2 separate regions of the Homo sapiens genome follow, and region 1 is linked to region 2. Evidence: fine-mapped expression QTL. A gene starts in region 2. The other region holds a variant in brackets. All regions are shown on one strand. Distances are between the middles of the regions. Region 1 overlaps LINC02226 (long intergenic non-protein coding RNA 2226). Region 2 holds the start of LINC02226 (long intergenic non-protein coding RNA 2226).

What was found. PIP is the estimated chance that this variant, and not a neighbour inherited with it, causes the effect.
Region 1: its variant is fine-mapped to the expression of LINC02226 in testis (GTEx, PIP above 0.99).

Annotation. Positions count from the first base shown.
Region 1 is chr5:8,331,222-8,341,281 of GRCh38, reverse strand. It overlaps LINC02226 (long intergenic non-protein coding RNA 2226), which reads left to right. Exons shown (of 6, transcript NR_039984.1): 4 at 3,987-4,101; 5 at 6,556-6,704; 6 at 6,830-7,799. Among named protein-coding and RNA genes, the nearest start is that of LINC02226, 120 kb to the left of the region's middle. The variant G/T (reference allele first, on the strand shown) is at 4,071.
Region 2 is chr5:8,452,359-8,462,418 of GRCh38, reverse strand. It overlaps LINC02226 (long intergenic non-protein coding RNA 2226), which reads left to right and starts at 4,855. Exons shown (of 6, transcript NR_039984.1): 1 at 4,855-4,970. It overlaps MIR4458HG (MIR4458 host gene), which reads right to left and starts at 4,732. Exons shown (of 2, transcript NR_039989.1): 1 at 4,653-4,732; 2 at 1-2,486. MIR4458 (microRNA 4458) reads right to left here and starts at 1,494; the gene lies at 1,420-1,494. It also overlaps the pseudogene LOC100419318. RefSeq lists silencers at 4,403-4,462, 4,473-4,522 and an enhancer at 5,043-5,142.

The sequences.
Region 1 (10,060 bases), 120 kb after region 2:
ATGGCTATGTTGTCTTTCAGCTCTTGCATCATTTTACTATTTTCCTTGGATTGGGTTTCAACCTTTTCCTGTATCTCATTGAGCTTCCTTGACATCCAGATTCTGGATTCTATGTCTGTCATTTCAGCCACTTAAATCTGGTTAAGAACCATTGCTGGGAAGCTAGTGTTATTTGGAGGTAAAAAGTCATTGTTGTTTTTAGAGTTGCCAGAATTCTTGTACTGTGTTTTTTGTTTGTTTTGTTTTGTTTTTCCCCTCATCCATATGGGCTGATGTTCTTTTAACCTTTAAAGTTGCTATCCTTTAAATGGGGCTCTTTGCTTTAATATTATTTGGTGCCCTCTAGGGCTTGGCTGTGGTATAAGCTGCATTTAGTTGATTGGTTTCATTTCTGAATCTTTTCAAGGGAGCAAGGTTCTGGTCAGCGCTCCCAGGCTGCCTGCTCCAACCCTGATGGGGGGCTGGGACCAGGCCTGTTTCTTTGTTCTCTGGCCCTTCAAGGTCAAGCACCTTCTGTGCTGGAGGGGCTGATGTGTTCTCAGTCTGTTGGCATAACATTCCAATGGGAGCTGCCAGCAAAAATGCTTCGGTGGGAAGGTAGTAGGGGGCCCATGGGAGAGCGCACTGTGGTTGGGGGGTATAGGAAAGCGCACATCAGTAGGGTGGCAGGGCAGCCGTGGGTGAGTGCACATTGGCAGAGAAGCATGGGGGTAGCAGGCATGTGTGCACCAACAGGGTGGTGGATGGGCTGTGCATGGTAGTGGAGCATTATAAGAAGGCTGCAAGTGCTCCTGCAGGGGAAGGCTGTAGATGAGTGCACACCAGCAGGGATCTGCCTGCCAAAGCGCTCTGAGGGGAAGGCAGGGGCTGCCAGTGAATGAACTATGGCACAGTAGCTTCTGTCAACTGTTTCAGCAGAGCAGCTGAGGCTGTGCTGAAAAGGGGTGTGGCCAGCTAGGGCTCTTGGGGGAGGCTGGCACACAAGGGATCTTCAGATCAGATTGGCCCCAATCTGTGGGAAGGGCAGCCCTGCTCTTTCCAGGTCTGGCCTCTAACAATGGCTAATGCCACCTACAGGACTATGGTGAGCCTCAGCCAGGAATGAGTCCCAGTGCTCAGCAACCTTGCGCACAGTTCCCACCTTTCTCCCCTTTCAGCCCCAGGGTCTGCATCCTCCCTCTGTCCATTCTCAATGCCTTCTTTCTGAGGATTTGTTCAGAGTGTACCTGTCTACTGGGTGGTTTAGTCTCTCCTGGTGGGAGATGCTCTTTCTGGCTGCGTCTAGTCGGCCATCTTCCAGAGATTATCCTTGAAGATACATGCTAATTATGACAGGTAAACAAAGGGTCTGTATGAAGGGCATTTCAGGGAGAGAAAGGTTTGAGATAATTTGGTATATTAAGTTGACGAAAAGGTTGACAAAATAGAGAAAACAGAATTTGATGTGCACAACTTAAAAAAGAAAATGTGGAACAGGCAATCTGAGTATGGAGTTAATATGATCTTTTCTCCTTTGGCTTTAGGACTTCATCTTTAATTACCTTTCTAACTCTATTTCCGTGGAAATTAGATAAAGGAAGAATTTCAATGACATCAAAAGACAATATTGATTATGGGGAAAAAGACCCTTGACTGGCAAATTTCTGCAGCCTAAGAGAACTAAATAAATGCCTGGCAAGATGCTAGAGCTATGGGCTTCCCAGAGTGTGGTGACTCTTGGTGCTGGCATGTTCTTACAGAGACCTTGGAAGCTGTAACTGTGGAATTGTAAGACATTTGGCTACTGTGCAACATGAGGCTTTTAGGCCAGCGAGGAACCTCCACTCATATATGAATCTCATCTCTCTGCACCTGAGCTCTTACATGAGTCAGGGGTAGAAAGCAGCCAAAAGAATGCCCACCTGACTGCTGAAACAGTTGCAGAGACTGATGCAAGAGCTCCCATAGGTCCCCTGATTCTATCTTGCTTGCTGTCAAGAATTATGAAGTCTCCGAAAATTTCCTCTACTTGCAAACTAAGAAGTTATCCTTTCACAGTTGTGTAGATGCTGGCAGAGGATATGAGAGTTCTAGGTTAGAGACAAAGAGATTCATTTTCATCAAGGCACAGCAGGAAGCATTACCTGCATATTCACACAGGTTTTGAATCCTCCAGCCCCCAAGGGGCATCACAGGTGGGTCTGGGTAGATGCTGTGCATGCAGAGGTGGAGAGTTTGTCTTACAGCTGATAAACCCAGAGCTCAGGAAACATCAATTTTTTAAATAATGGGCAGCAAGCAGATCTGCCCAACTTTTACATTATCTTATTACATTGGTGGCAAAACAACCCCATCTTCTGCTCCAGAGCTAGATACTGTCTCTGTCTATCAATTCTCTTTGCTAGATGTAGTAGTCTGCATCCAGTCATGAGATACAAATCATACCACCGTTAAAAAGGAGATGTTTAATAAAAAGAATTATTAAATTTGATTAAAGGCTAACTATACAACATAAGAAAACTCTATATGGTGCCCTAAGGCTAAGGGAGAGCACCCAAGGAAGAACAAACTCAGAAGGAGTTAGGCCTCACTGAAAAAGGCATAGTTTAACCAGCAGATAGTGGAGAAGTTTTCAGTGTTGCCAGGCTGGAGCTGGTCTGGAGTTGCTTTTGAAAATATCAGAATCCTCTCTGCCATGCAGGAGGGAGTGCAAATGAACAGCAATCTGCACAGGCAGGCAGTGGGATCCTGGGTGCTGGTGGAGGCAGAGAGCCTTCCAATACATGGATTTCACAAGGTGGTGGTGGTGGGAGGAGGGGTTTGCAGGAGGGACAGAAGGTGACATTCAGGTGCAGGTGGCCACATGGAGACTTGCAGAGGGAGTCCTGGCATCAGCACAGTCAGGAGGCCTTGGAATCAGGCAGATGTTGGGGGATTCTGGTTTCTTGGTCAAGATGGTTGTGGAAAGGTTATTACCAGGCCAAGTCTGCAGGATGCAGAAAGACCACATCCTAACTGTGGCTGTGGCAGACCCTCCTGAGGTCCTCACATCTACATCTTCACCTCGCTCCACACTGGAATTGTAGGAAGTCTTTTCCTCTTGCAGAGTCCCAAGTGTCTTCTACTAAAAGCCTCAGAATCACACTGGCTTTCAAGGAGAAAGGTTGAAAAGAATCCCATTGTTTATCCTAGAGCAACATTGCAGAGTGCATTGGAACCGCGTGGCCATCCATGGATAACCAGTGCGTCACACATCGTGCTTGACAAGACAGTCACAACAGAAGGTGTGTGTGCAAGACGTGCAGAAACTCCTTGGAGAGCTGTCTCTTCACACTCATGCTGTGGCTTCTGCCCTGTGTAAGCACAGTGGGTGCCAAGCATGGCTCGTGGTGATTCTGCACATCTTAATTTAGTTGGACCTAAGAATATCCTTCAGTGGGTATTACAAGTACATGGTGGCAGACCACAAAGAGATACAGATGCAATGCTAAGTCTTTTATCCTGAAGATGATCAAGGGTCAGTTTACTACAGTTCCCTAAGGAATAGTGGTTACTAGCTTAAGTGTGATGCTTTTTACAATTGAAAATGAAGTGTAGGTATAATACTAGCAAAGAGTAATAATATAATATCTTTTATTTCCACTATGTGCCAGGTAGTATATTTGGATTTTTGTTTCTTCGTTTTTGGTAGTTGGCCCTCACAGACACATGTAGCCATATTTTTGCAGAGAAGGAAATAGAGGCTCAGCAAGCAAGTCAGGAACTTTTCAGCATCACACAGTTAGGAAAAGAAGGAGATGGAAGCAGGGCATTCTCTGTGTCCTTCCACCTGAGCAGCTAACACTGATGGCCTTTCCACAGTGCAGGCTACATAAAGTGTGTACATTTCAAACTTTCAAAAAATAGAAGCAGGAAGAACGCAGAATGAAAATCGCTGGGGCTCTTGGCCTATGTTGATTAGTACCCCTGACTGTTGATCACTATTCCTTTCCATGTTTGCCTGGAAGATGGCCTGACAGCACCTGTCTACAGTACAGTATTGAGGCACACAGGACCTTGGAAATAAAAGGGAATATTACAAATACTGCAGA[G/T]ACACAAGGATTAGTTGTTTGTTTGTTTAAGGTAAGCAGAGATGAGCAATTTGCTTTTCGGATTCCAAAAAAGATTTGTTCTCCTTCTTTAAAGCAGCAATTCACGCCAGAGACCTAAGTGAGCTGTCATTTTCTCTGAGTGTTTTCTTTTTTTCATAGGCACCAGTCTACATCTCCTGGCTGACTAACGCATCAAACAAAGCAGGCTTAGGTAAATTGAAAGAGAGAAGCTCTCCTGAGTCCAACTTATGTTTTTCTGGCAACAACTGAGCTCACTCGATTAATACTTAAGGAGAGCACTGCATTGAGGCACAAGTGCTAGCCCAGCCAGGGATGCTCTCAGCCATGGCTGCACACGACAATCATCAGAAAGCCCTTTCACACTGGGCAGGGTGTGCTGCTTTTTAAGTATTCCTTGGCGATTTTCACCTGCAGTCCAGGTTAGCCATTGTATAATTTGAACAGCACTGAAACTCAGGAAAAATTAACCTTCAGTATCTAATATAATCGGGTTTATTCAAGAGTATCCTTTTCTGTAAAATAGAAAATTAATAAATTATCTAGCTTTGAAATCAGGTTATCCTAAATAATAGACCTGCAATTTAAGGAATTCTGAGTTTTCCAAATTTCTTGATGACTATGATGTTTGGTCATTTGCAAATAGCTAGGCCTTTTAGAAAAATCTGAACTGTCTCTTTGGAAATTGTCAGTATCAAAATGGAGTCATTTATGTTAAAAAAAAATAAAGAAAAAAAAAAACTCTAACAAATAGAGCTGAGGAAAGCTATCAAGAAAGAGTTCTCATGTTTGTATGCCTGACAACAAAAACTATCACAAAACATTGCAAAAACCACATCCTTGCACAAACGCTTTCAGGAACTTACACCAAAAAATACTTCTGCGAGGACATCACCCCAAAAACTGCTTGTCCAACCTTGGAGTAGCATCATATTTGTTATTGATCAACATAGCCAAGAATAATCATTTTAAAATAATTATGTAATACTCTTCATTTTTTCTTTAAAAGCATAGCCTTCCTTTACCTCCCTGAATGTGTACATAGTTTACTAAGGCACACATGTGCCCTTTGCAATGCCCATGCCTCAATAAATATCTTTTACTTTTAGAGAGCCTCTCTCTGTTTGCTATTTAGGTTGACACATCCATGTTCAATATTTTTAAGTTAATGTTAATTGTGTCAACATGGATGTTGTGATCACATAGAGATTAATTATGTTCAGATAATGAGCTCAGCTTCTACCACCAACTTCAGCACTCTTCTACTACCTCCTGCTGGAGATGGCCATGCAAAGTGTTGCTGTTCTTAAAAGTCTGGCATGCAAAGAGAGAAATAAATAAATAGAATTGTGATTTAAAGGTTTTTTTGTTTGTCTTTTAAGGAACAACTTTCTGGGAGCCAAACATGCCATAGCAAATCCAACAGATCATTCAGCAAATTTAACTTCATGATCTTCAATGTATTACTTCGGTAGATTTAACCACATTTCCCAAAGACTGACAGGTTCATTTTTTGATTCATGATCTACTTATGCCAAGACCTTCTGCTTTTTTTTTTTGAGACGGAGTCTTGCTCTGTCGCCCAGGCTGGAGTGCAGTGATGTGATCTCGGCTCACTGCAAGCTCCACCTCCCAGGTTCATGCCATTCTCCTGCCTCAGCCTCCCGAATAGCTGGGACTACAAGGCGCCCGCCACCACGCCTGGCTAATTTTTTGTATTTTTAGTACAGACGGGGTTTCACTGTGTTAACCAGGATGGTTTCGATCTCCTGACCTCGTGATCCACCCGCCTCGGCCTCCCAAAGTGCTGGGATTACGGGCGTGAGCCACCGTGCCCGGCCTACTTATGCCAAGACCTAAAAGAAACTTTTAAATCCCTATTTATTTCATTAATTGTCTTGTAAGACAATTCATGAAATTGACCTGTAAGACAATGGGTCAATGAAATTTGAAGTAAATTTGTACTCAATCTGTTAACCACATCTTACAAGGCTCATCCATCCCAATGCCTTGAAGAAATCTCTTGTCACAGACTGCCTGCTAATCGTGGGGCATGAAACAACTTGTAAGAATATGGCAACATAGAGATTTGTGGAAATTAAATGCCTGCTCTTTTAAAAACCTGACTGTAATTAGTTTGTCTAATTGTTTAAGGTCAGAATATCTTTGATATGCCAGCTCCCAGTAATTTCACTTCAGGAATAAAGAAAAGAAAAAAGAAACCTGAGATAAAGATACTGATTCCTGAAGCAAAATGCTTGTCATATATTAGAAACGGAAAAATCTTCAATTAATAAATAACCAACCATTGAAACTTACATCATGAAAAAGTTGTGTTTGTTTTATAAAAATTGAAATGTTGGATAACTATTGAAAATTAAGAGAATAATTTTGATTGAGATGTTGAAAATAATTATTTAATACTATAATTATTCATCAATTCTATAAATATTACCCTTTTTTCCAGGGAGTAACATCCAGAAGAAACAATTAGTAATATTTCTTTACTGCTTGAGTACATTTTATCATCAGATGGCCAATCATATAACTGGGTTTATTCAAGAAATTTTTTTCTGTAAAATATAAAGTGAATCACCTATCTAATTTTGATAACAGGTAATCTTAAATAATAGACCTCATTACAGAGTCATGTCCATGCAAGTACTTGTTATACAAGCAATGTGTTTACACCCTTCACTTTGGACTGCATGAACTCAGGTATCTTCATCTGTGTGCAACAGAAAGCCCAGGGAGCAGCAGCTTAAACCATAAGAGCATATACTGTTTACCTGAAGAGAGAGAAGGTGGTTCCAAGTGCTCTCCAAAGCCCCATGATGTCAGGACATGGGTCAGCATCTCTACAGCTCTCCTGCTTCTCTCTCATGGGTGCAAAGTGGCTTCTCACATCTCAACATGCCAAGGCAGGAAGCTGGGATACAAGGGCAAGGAGAGAGCTCCTCTCTTCTACAGAGAAGGAAACATCTTTCCCACAAGCCTGGCACCCTGCCCTTCACTCTCCATGTGATGGGACCACAAGGCCCCTCCCAGCTGCAGAATGTTGGGGAAGAGGGTGCCTGATTCTCTGGCTTCTGTAGCTGGAGGCAGGCACTGGAGAAAGAGATGGGAATGGCCAATGGGTAGCCATTTCTATCGTGATACAGTCAAATAACAGGACTTTTAAAAGGAAATAATTTCTTGAGAATAGCAGAGCACACCAGTATGCTCGAATAAAAATGGTAACTGGATTTCCTGAACTGTTAAATTAAACATGCATTGCTGATTTCCTCTTTCTGCAGCTGCTCTGCTTCTAACTATCCGTCTCTTCTGTCTGTGGCTCAAGATCCATCATCTTTAGAATATAAAATCCTTCTTATGGTTTTATTTGTCCTTTGTTTGCTGGTCCCTCCTTGCCTGCCTTCAATATTTTTGGCTTTCTTCCCTTGCTTTGCTGGGATGTGTGATTTATCCTATCACCGGAGATCTCTGTGAGAAAGTACTGGATGTTTATTTGCCTGCATATGTCAGAAGCTCCAGGCAGGGCTGCCTCGTCCCACAACTTCAGGGGAGCCATTCATTTCCATGTGCCTTGCACAGCCTGTGCGGCCACAATCGGCAGCACTGAGTTTGGGCAACAGAGAAATGGTTTCACTGGAAAAGACACAGTTTTAAATTCCCCTTTCCAAAATAAATCTATTTTCAGCATTATCACTCCCACTGCCTCTACCTTGGCTTGTCTTTTTGAGTCTTCTTTGAATATCACGGTCACCTCCTAAGTGGCCTCCCTGTAATCAGTCTTTCTTCCCTTCATTCTACCCTACAAATATCTATTGCCTCCCACTATACGCAAGACATCAAAACTGCTTGGTGCAGCCTTCAGGTTACTTTTTTGGCTTCTGGCTTGAATTATTTCTCTGTGCCCATGAGCCATCTCACTGTCACTCCAGTGAGCTCCTCAGCTCCTCACTCCCTCCCTACCCACTCTGCCTGCCCATTTCTTTACCCACTCCTGCTGCTGGGATAATGTCCTGCCCAGTTTTCTTCTGAACTGTCCATCTCTAGTGAGCAGTGGGCATTTCCTCCTGGGGAGCATACACCTGAATTCTACAAGCCAGCAGCACCCCAATTTTGCTTTGGAGAATTTCACAGCTCCAAACATGTGCAGTCTTGGTAAAAAGCCATCAAAGTGGGATGTCCTTTCTTGCCAAGGGTGAGACTCAAACCAGCCCAACCACATGCTCTCCTTGCACAGAGAGATTCGGGCCCCAACCCTGTGAAGCGGATGCACCTGGTGACTGGGCTCTGAGGACAAACTGTCCACCTTGTGTTCACCGCTGACCGCCAAGCCCTGCCGCGGGCTCCCCAGGTCCCTCTGGCACATGGCTGCTTGGCGTCATCTCCTGCATTGCTCAAGCCATTCCTGTGCATTGCTTTTTGCACCACTTTTTTCTTGGCCAGTGCAGGAGTTTGTGCATTCCAATAAAATCCCACACTGGCGTCCATCTGAAGGCCCAGGAGGACGGCATCTTCTAGGGAGACAGAGCAGTAATGAAGGAGCCTCATCCCCAGGTGCTTAATGCAGCAGAGTCTAACCTTCAACCCAGGACTACTGCACTGCAGACTCTCTTAGAAGCCAGAAATCAGCTTTCTTACTGGAGCTGCCATTACGGTGGATCTCTGCTCTTGCAGAGAAATCTAATCATGCAGGTGGTGGGGTAAGGGGATAGGCTACGAGGAAGATTGGAAACAAATCGTGGGGTAAAGGTGGTTGTGGGCCACCTTTGGAGTCTGGATCTCCGTGGGTCAGCAGCTGCTGTTTTCCAGCAAAAGGAAGCAAGGTTTGCTTTAGAAGGAGAGTGGCCTCTCCTACATAGAGGAAGAGGGTCTGGAGGCAGACGCGCTGGCGGCAGCAAAATGAAGAAGGAGGCGTGCCTGAAGGAAGTGGACTTGGGGTCAAGATGACATTAGATGGGTCACATTCAAGAGTGTGCTCCAAGGTAGACTCAGGGTTTTCTAGAATTAAAGAGAAACAAAGGGCGAAATACAAAGGCAGTGCCCCTTTTGAGGCCTGGTCTTCAGCAGAATTCAGGGGAAAGCTTCATGGGGAGAAGAGAGCAGGCGTGGGGAGAGGAGGCTACCTGTGAGGCTTCTCTCCATGCCCTTCCTGCCACAGAGAAGTTGCTCCCCCTCTAAGACCTTGGCTGCCCTCCCGGATGAGGGAGCAGCTGCCCTGGCTCGGCTTTCAGGGACCAAGTCCAGTGTTCTAACTGGGCTGGGCTCCACTCAGGATGCCAGATCCAAGGAGCATGAGTCCATAGAGGAGGGGGCTCTGAAGCCAGGGAGGCAGTGCTGGACCAGGCCACTCCTGAGCAAGGAAAGGCTGAGGAGGAACTGGCCAGCTGCAGGTGCCCACAGGGCGGTACTCAGGGAGGTGCAGCTGCAGGCCTCTGCAGGAAGAGCTGGACTCCAGGGCTCCTTCTTGATTGGGGTTCAACCCTAGAGCAGGTTGGAAATCTGGATCTCCAGCCTAGGAGCAGGGCTATCAAGGGCTGAGCAGGACAATAAGTGAGTGGCTGCCTGGTGGGGGTGCCCTCAGGTGTATCATGTGCCCACCAGGAAACTACAGTGTAAGCTCAGCCGATCATTTGGGTGAATTGGAAAATGACTCCAGGATGAGAGGGAAGAAGCAATTCGGTGGCCCTGTGGGGACACAGTGCTGTCTCCAGGGTTCTGCTGGTTCCTATGTCCAGGCATGATAACTTCAGGGCACACTCAGAGTGGACAGTGTGGCCTCCAGCATCCTCACGGCCTCAGTCAGGCTGACCCAGGCACTGGTCACACCTCAGCCTGCAGGTTAGTTTTGTAATTTTGTGGGTCTTGAGAAAGGTGAGGTCTGATGATTTATAAGTCATAAGAAAACTTGGTTTGTTTGCTTTTTGGAATATTCAGAGAAACTTTAGTAAATGTATCAATGC
Region 2 (10,060 bases):
CTTTATATTCATCATCATAAAAAATGCACAGCCATTTGAAAAAAGGGCAATTACCCTAAATGAATATTGCCAAAGCACAGATCAACTTTATATAGGATTTCTTTCCTTGTTTCTGAAAAATCGCAAACAGAACTGGCAGACTTTATTTAACAAACATTGATTTTGTCCAGGCATGGAGTTTAAATTTTAGTGCATGTGCTGGAGGCAGGGAGAAGTGATGCGAGAAAGTAAAGCAACGACAGGTCATGCGGGGACCAGTGCTACAAAGAAACTAAAGCCAGGGGAAGGGTTGGGGAGGCATGGAGTGGGGTAGGACTACTAAATTTAGACAGAATGGGGTGCTAGAAAAGGTTGACTATGCTGTGGTAACAAATTAGCCCCTGAACCCCAGCGGTGTAGCATAAGTTTATCTCTTACCCACATTCTACGTCCACCACAGGTCACCAGTGGCTGTGCTCTAGTCATTCAGGGACACAGCTGGATGGAGGCTGCACCATCTGAGACACGGGGCACCTCCCTAGTCCTGCCAGAGCCGCAGTAGCAGTGGACCAGAGCTGGAAAGTCACACATGGAGCCTTAAAGTCTTTAAGCAATAAGCCACAACTAGTACCATGGCCCCACCTACTGCAAGAGGGCTGAGAAATGGGAGGAGTTCATAGCATGAGCAATCAATAACTGTCACTGATATCCAGGGAAGTCGTCTCTGACACAGGGAAATCTAAGCAAAGACCAACTAAAGAAAGAAGCTACACAGAAAGTTGGAGACAGGATGATGTCATTTATGATTCCAAGAAATATTCTGTTTGTCTGCCATTTGTTTCCAGTGAACAACCACATCAAATCTTTAATTTAGATATTTTGATAATTAAATGCATTAAAAATCTGTCTCTATTTCTATGCTTAGTTCAAGTAATAGCTTACCTCAGTGATTTTAACAGTCTTACATACCATATAGTATCACTGCCCTTACATTACATCCTTCAATAATTATCCCCTCCCGAGTAAAATCATAATACAAGGGCTGACAAACTCATTCTTGATTGACACACATCTCGACTCCTCACTCATTTCTTCTCCACATATTATTATTTTCTCATTACTTACCTAAAATTTAACCTTATAGATAATGAAAAGGGTTCTGAACATTAAGAAATAATAGAATAGTTATAAATGGAGGAAAAAGTTTGAATAAAAAAGTTTCTTAAAAGGATAGTGTCACTTGCAAAAATAGCTCTTTGAAATACAGGTTCCTATAAACATTTTACACGCATTAAGATATTACTCTTACACATACTGGTAACACAGACACTATACATATTTGTCTCCATTTTAGGAAGAAATGAAGCAAGGCTATTTTTAATAATAAACTTAGAAACAATTCATAACCCCTAGTATTTGCATTAACCTGCAAATACTAGGCAGCACACCACAGCAGAGTGTAACTAAAACCTAAAATAGTGTTTCACTTTCTTCCACACCTACCTCTGTGCGCTCATGCAAGTGTTTTTATTTTGCTTTGCATTAGATGCTTCTGTAATACAGGCATCTGATTCACCCCACATAAAGCTGTTGTAAGTAATCAATGTGAGAAAGTCTACTTATTGTTAAGCATATTTGTATATTTTTTACTAGTTATTTCATACTTGCCCTGAAAGAATACACATTCAAAAAGCTTGAAATTAGGCAATGTCAGTCTCATCAAACAAAACCAGCATTGGAAGCGAATATTAACAAATATCAGAATGAAATTACAAAATATACATCTCCAGCCTCATAAAACATGAATTTTATAAGCACTTTCATAAACATAAGAAAAATAGCTTTGACAATAACTATTTGAAAACATTATTATTAATAATCTTGTATACTGTACATGTGCACTTAAATGTAATAGCACCAACATTCATTATATTATGAAGGGGATACTTTATAAGAATTATAAATTATTTTTACATGATTAAATAATTTTGGCAGAGTAAGTCCGCAGGACTTAAATAACCAGTCAGCCTTAGTATCTACATCTGGACCAGGAAGCCTTTGTGTTACAGACACAGATTCCCTGTGAAGTTCTCCAGGGTGTAAAGAAGGCCCCAGGGAGGTGCCGACGGGATGTGAGGGCTGCCTTTCAGCTCAGGCGAGCCTGCAAGCAACAGGGCAGTTTGGGAAGGGTCACAGGCACAGGAAGGGAGCAGTGGGCAACCATTGATTACATCAAACCAGGATGGTTTCTTCTTTTTAAAGAAACTTTTGTTGAGTGTTTACCCACCCCCATCCACACAAATATGCTCTCTAGGAAATGTGAAAGTATAAGCTTCAGAAAAATGTTTTTCTCATCCTTTAATTTCTGGTTTTATGATCAAATGTTCCGAAGACACTGCTTCTTTTTGCTCAAAATAGTTGACATTGTCATTGCTTCTAGTTTTTCAGCTCCTACTATGCTTACTATGTCCATGGGTGCCATTGACGTCTTTGGCTATTTATCATCTCTAGAAAAGAAAAAAAAACATTAAAATTTTAGGATGTAGGATTCACAATAAATCTCTTACCAAATCCTCCTTAAATCCCTAAACTCTCTACCTGGCTCTGACTCCAGGATCACCCTTTCAGTTCTTTCCATGTTTTTCTTCGGAAAATGTAGTTTCCTAACCTTTCTACCCACCCTTCTCGTCTACTCTTAGGTCTGCAGCCACAGTGATAGTTCTAAGTTGCAAACCTGATCATGTCCTTCCAGTACTTAGTCTTTCAAAAATCTTCCTACTTCCCGCAGAGTGAAGCCTGAACTCTTTAATAGGCATCTAAGGACTTGGACCCGGATCCTGTTAACCTGTTAATTCATCTTTGCCTCTAACTCCCTCCCTTCATCTTTCAAGGCACAGCGCAGGACTTAACTCATTGTGAAAGTACTAAGCCTTGATGTATCTTTAGGAAAAACACACGTATACACACACACGCATGCAAAGAGAGGAAGCATAGCTTAGTGGTTAACCTACATAGACTGCAACTTGCTTAAATAATCCAGTATTTATCTATGTTTTAATAAAATTGTTTTAATAAAAATATATGAAATTCATCTATCTTTTCTCTGGAATGCTTTTGCCTGTTCAAAGATTATACAATGCTCCCGTATGTTACAGAGGAAGCCGTCCCTTCATTTATAAAAGACAGTTAACACATAGCACAAAAACTCTAGAGTAGGATGGATCCGCAACTACTGTACTGGAAATATGCTAAATTAGGGTTCTGATTAGAGTTAATGGAATTAACTTGGGTGAGAGAAAATACTCACCATTAATCTAGGGGTAACAGAGGAGTTAAACTCCAATTCAGAAACAGAGCAGTTCAAAATCAGAATCTAGAGTCAGCCTACATGGGCTTGATCTGGGAATGTGCCCTTTATTAGACGTGTAACCTTGGGCTGCTGCTTGACTGAATAGGTCTTCGATTCCTCATGGAATGAATATAATAAGATCTGATGAATGCAATTAGACAGTGCCTGAAACAGTAGTCTTAAGTAGGTATTTTTGTTGTCCCACTTTTTGAGAAACAAAACCAAAGTCAATTCAATTAAAACTGCAGGTTTCTTGATTTCATCCTAATACTTTGCAAATTAATCACAGAACCCAAGTGAAATTGCCTAGACTCTCAAAGAGTTCGAAAAACATTTCTAATACACTCAAAATTTTCCTAGTTGACGTTCACAGATTATCAAGAGTAAAGCACCTTCATACAGTTTTGATCCTCACACTGTCTAAATCTGAGGAGCTGTCAGGAAAGACATGTAAGGAGAGATCTAAGCTAAAACTCAAACCACACATGAGGCTTTTCAACTGTGACCAACTTGTAGTTAAAATTCAGTTTATGCTTTTCTGTCCACCTAAGAGCAAATTAAACCTTTAAGAAAGCAAAGGATAAAATCATTGTTAGCTCAAGCATTAAAAAAGAAAATAACTGAATATATCTTCTTCAACTCTCCACCCCTAGGGATGAGAACTGCACCTGGCAAACAAGAGGACATTCAACACGTAGTAGCTGTTAAAATGAGTAACTCCCCAAAAGCACTATTAGAAGGCGATATAGTTATTATGACCAAGTTCTGCGGAAACATGGTGTTGAAAACCTTACTGAAGCTAACAATGTGCGTCACCTTCCAGGAGCCACACACACATCCTGAGGGCTTCCCAGATCAACCCCTCATCCCCGCGACAGAGCCACAATCCAGCACCACCTTCCCAGGACTCTCAGCTGAGGCCCCAGCCCCCGCAGGCCCAGGGACGACGCGGCGGGCAGGGCACATGCCTGCGTCGGGCCAGGTGGAAGCTCGGAACGACCACAGGCCCCCGGGGCGCGCCCCTCCCCGTCACGCGCCCCGTTTCCCACGTCCACGCATGCGGTTTCCCCAGGCCTGGAAAGCGTCTAGAGCCAAAGAGCCCAGGGGCTTGCCCGCGCAGAGGCCGACGTGGGGCCCAGGGACGCGCTCCCGGGGTCCTCCCCGCCGAGCCCGCAGCCAGCACCCGGAGCGATCCCCCGAGCCCGAGGGGCGTGGGAACCACGCGCGCAAGCCGGCTGCCCTTCCAGTCCCGGGACGCTTCCCCATCAGGCCAGTGCTAGGCGGGCGGTCGGGACCCGGGGATCGCAGCCTCCGGAGCGCTCACCTGGGTGGCGCAGGCCAAGGACGCCCATGGACAGCGCGACCTCCTCCCATTCCACACACGCGCCCACGACCAAAGTGCGCATGCTCGACACCTGGGACCAATAGGAATCTCGGTCCGAGGGTAGCTGGGGCCAATCACAGCGCGTCTGGCGTGTGGGCGGTGTCTCCTCGTGTTACGCGTGCGCGGAGGGGCTGCGCTACCCGGTCTTGGGTTTTTCATCGGGGAGTGGGAGTGGACTGAAGGCTTGGCCGCTCCGCCTCACTGAGCCGGCTCAGCCAGCGCAGCTGTTCCTGGAACGCCAGTCCCTTAGGATGGGAGGTACTTTCATCTCGAAGAGGGCCGTGGCGTCTGGAGCTTCCCTCCCTTCTGTCCTGCTGAGTCATCCCCGCGTCGCCTGCGAGGCCGCGAGGCGTTTAGGTCTGGGCAGGCCGCCTTTTCCCCATCACGAGATCCTGTTATTTTACTGTTTCATTCTTTTTCTCACTTTCCTATTTGTTAAGCCAAACTTTTTCCTTCCATAGACGTGACCCCTTAGAAGGCTACCCATGCCTCGACATATCTGACATTTGACGTTTTACTCAAATAATTTGCCAAAGTCTATTGCCTTTTTTAACTTCTATTTTCTAAAGCTAGTTTGATACTAATCAACACAGTTTTTTCAACAAGCATGTAAGTGTGCATATTCTAGACATGCGCGGCCTGAGTTTAACCCATCTGCTACTAATTTGTGTTGTCTCGGAATATTATCTAATCCCGTGCTTCAGTTCTCATATATAAACTGAAACTTTATAGATTCACTGGTGGCCTGTAAGCCTGGCCTGTAAGCCTTAAGTTGAAACATGGAGCATATCAGAACTGTGCCTGGCACGTGGTGAAATGTTCAAAAGTTAGTATTGTTATTAGGTGCTGGGCACTTTTCTAGGCTTTGGGATATAGAGATCAATGTCCCTGATGTCCTGGTGTTTATAATTTATTGTGGACACTTTGCTATTTTTTTGGATACAGATCTTTATTTTCATAAACATGGATAATTTTCATTGAGTGCAGTGTGATCTCAATTGATACTTTTGTAGTATTTCATCATTATGCTTATATTCTTTTTAAAATTTAGGTACTGTTGAGGGAAAGTGAGAATGACATGATTTTGATAACATGGTAGAACCTTTTTCATTCATCTGGTGTTGCCACACTGGGGCTCTGGGTGCTTTATGAATCATGTTCACAAGTCATACTTGTGTCTGTCCATGGTTCTTTTCACTACAGCCACCATAGTTCAGGGTGAGATTTTTCACACCGACTGTAAAGATTTATCTGTGGAAAATGGTAATGAGCTTGCCTGGTTGATGTCCTGTTGTTTTCCCAAGTACATACTTGGAAGAGAGTGAACAGAAGACTAAAACGTGGGTCAACAGATGTTTTGCAGTGAGCTAAAAAATAATTGACTTCACTAGAACAACTGCTTGATATTCTACAGCAGTTTTGCAGGTTTCTGAAGTGGAAGAAGCAGATAGTGATGGAATGCTGCTAAAAGAAATATAAGAGAATAATAACACCCTTGGTGCTTGTTAATTTCATTTTGAATTTTTTTTTTTTAAGTTGTCAGTTACATGTTTGGTGACTGCTTTGAAAGTTCTGATTCTGTTGCATGTGGATCCACAAGGTAGCTTAGGAAGCCTGATGGCAGAATACAAATTGTCTTAAAAGAGTTCATAGGTATTCACAATCTTTGTATTGAAGAAAGTATGATGAAACTCCCCAGGTCCAGTTAGGGCAGCACTGGGAATGCAAGGTGAGAAATTGGAAGAATTTACCACACACAAAAAAATGATGTGTCTGTATTAGTCCATTCTTGTATTGCTATAAAGAAATACCTGAGACTGGGTAGTTTATAAAGAAAAGAGGTTTAATTGGCTCACAGTTCTGCAGGCTGTACAAGCATGCTGCTGGCATCTGTTAGACTTCCAGGGGAAGCCTCAGGGAGCTTTTATTCATGGTGGAAGGCCAGCAGGAGGAAGAGAGAAAAGTGGTGGGGAGGTGCCACAATTTACAGCAACCAGATCTTGCAGGAACTTAGTATCAGGAAGTCAGCACCAAGCCTGAGGGATCTGCCTCCACGACCCAAACACCTCCCACCAGCCCCCGCCTCCAACACTGGGGATTAAAATTCAGCATGAGATTTGGTGGGGACATATATTCAAAACGTATCAGTGTCATTTTATGAAATATTCTGGGCTAAAACAGTGGATCTACAAGCAACTTTTAAAAAGAAGATAATTAACATCTCTCAGTTGACAGTTTCTAACTTGAATCCTAAATAGGCCAAGTGTGCAGCAAGCTTGTGGTTTTTGATCAGACACTACCTGTGAGCTCTCTTTTTCTTAGTTCTAATAAGGAAATAGATACTAAGTCTTAGAAATTTTTAAATACTTTGGGCACAATAACATTTTTTTAAACAAAGACCTAGAGCAACATGTTGCTGGACTTTCTGAGCAAAGAAAGTCAAGTGATATAGAAAACTGACTCCTGGGCCAGGGGTGGTGTCTCACGCCTGTAATCCCAGCACTTTGGCAGGCCGAGGTGGGCAGATCACGACATCAGGAGTTCAAGACTAGCCTGGCCAATGTGGTGAAACCCATCTCTACTAAAAATACAAAAATTAGCCGGGCATGGTGGCATGTGCCTGTAGTCCCAGCTACTTGGGAGGCTGAGGCAGCAGAATTGCTTGGACCCGGGAGGCGAAGGTTGCAGTGAGCAGAGATTGTGCCATTATATTCCAGCCTGAGCGATAGAGCAAGACTCCGTCTCAAAAAAAAAAAAAAAAAAAAAAAGAAAGAAAAAAGAAAACTGACTCTTTCAAAATCCATTTTGAATGTAATAGCAAAAAGTTGTTTTCCCCCTTGCAAATTACAGGCATATGTCAGAGATATTGGGGGTTCAGTTCCAGACCACCTCAATAAAGTGAATATCACAATAAAGCATGTCAGATGAAGTCCTAGACAGCATCTCATTCCACATAAGGCTATTTTGCCTACACTGAGAAGCTGTTGTTTAGTGTAGCCACCTTTATCAATGATCTTAGCTGGATCTTCTGGATAACTCGTGGCAGTGTCTACACTAGCACTTGGTGCTTCACATTGCACTTTTATGTATGGAGACAGCTTCTTTCCTTAAACCTCATCAGCCAATGTCTGCCAGCTTTAAACTTTTCTGCAGCTTCCTTATGTCTCTCAGTCATCATAGAAAAGAAGAAAATTAGGGCTTTGTCCTGGATTAGACATTGGCTTAAGGAAATGATATGTCTGGTTTGAATCTCTCCAGACCACTAAAACTTTCCGCAGATGAGCAGAAAGACTGTTTCACTTTCTTATTATCCCTATATTCCCTGAGGTAGCACTTTTAATTTTTTTTCAAGAACGTTTCCTTTGCATTCACAACTTCGCTACCCATTTGGCACAAAAGGCCTAGCTTTCAACCTATCCAGCTTTTGACATGCCTTCCTTGCGAAGCTTAATCATTTCAAGCTTTTGATTTAAAGTGAGAGACTTGCAAGTCTCCCTTTCACTTGAACACCTAGAGGCCACTGTAGGGTTATTAATTGGCCTAGTTTTAACATTGTGTCTCAGGGAACAGGGAGACTTAATGGGAGGGAGAGAGATGGGGAACAGCTGGTTGCTGGTGCAGTCAGAACACACATATTTACCAGTTCAGTTTAAAGTCTTCTATGGGTGTGGCTCTTGGTGCCCCCAAGCAATTATAATAGTAACATCAAAGATCACTCGCCACATATCATCATAACAGATATAATAACAAGAAAAAGTTTGAAATAGTGTGAGGATTACCAAAATGTGACACAGATACACAAACTGAACACATGCTGTTGGAAAAATGGCGCTGATAGACTTGCTCAATGCAAGGCTGCCACAACCCTTCTATATATATATATATATGTATATAAAATACAGTATCTGTGAAACTCAATAAAACAAAATGTACAATAAAACAAGTATGACTGAATAAACTTTTAGTACCTCAGGTTTTCAATTAATAAAATCACCTGGGAAAGTCAATTACTTGCCATGAAAACCTGCATTTTGTTTGGAAAACTAGAAAATACGTGATTCCCTCACTTTTATTCTTTTCATGCATAATATTGTTAAACTCTTAATTCATGTTCACTGATCAGATATAATCATCTGACTTATGCTAAACACATTTAGCTCTTATTTTCTTCATTAGTTTCAAGATGAGCTGGTTATAACTTAGACTAGAATAATTAGTGTTTGAAATTTTGATGTTTCAGAGTCCAGGAATCCTTATACCCAGCAATGTTTTGACTTTCTTTTCCATAATGGTCTAAAAAAAGTCATGTGGTAAAGCGTTTGAATTAGAAGAAAATAGTTAAAGAAACTTAACTATTTTATGGAAAGGGAAGCAGGCAGTTTCCAGAAGAGCAGGATCTTTACTTACCTAACTAAAGAGTTGCAATATAATTTTGGAGATAATATTGATAATAATAACCACAATAATATATGTTAGAATCTTTCATGAAAGAGCAAATGTCTAAATGTCACTTTGGACATTTTCTTAAGAGGGTTAGTTTATAATTTTATATCAAATCAAGTCTACCTAGATACTTCAGATGACTGGATCTCAGTTAAAGGAAATATATACTGAGGATAAATAAAGAAAAATAGATCATATTATTTTGGAGATAAATATTTATAATCATTGAATCATGCAGAAAATTATTTAAACTAGCAACAGAAAATTCTTATATATCAATGTGAAATTTTGGGGGAACATAAAAATACAAATCAGTAAAAAGGAACTTAACATAGATAAGCTTTTCTTAGAGGTGGCAAGGGAAATTGACAAGGGAAACTTCTGATTTTAAGTCACAGAAAGTATGCGAGTTTCATTTGATCCGATATAAATGCTTCATTGTCAGGTTGAGAGACAGGACAGGAATGGCAAGAAAGGCAGGAATGAGGGATCATGGATAGAAAAGGCTCTGAAGTTGGGAAAATTGAGTCTGGGTCGTTTCATCATCAGATAGTTCTGTCAAGAAGGAACAAGAAGAAGGAAAGAAATGGTATTATTTTCTCACTTAATGCCCATTCATGTCAGGCCACGTACCAGGTACTTTCATTACATGCCAACCATGTGACTTGGGACAAGTTAATTCCCAAGTCACAGTTTCCTTGGAGATGATACTAGTAGAATTGTGTGAGAATTAAGTTACTCAATACATGTAAAACACAAACATGGTAGCACATGTTATTGAATACATGTAAAACATAAACATAGTAGCACAAAGAAAGTATACTGTAACTATGATAACGATTATGTCTGATTTTGTCACACTATGCTGGTGCCTCACTTTATCTTTGGGGTCTGTTTATTCATCA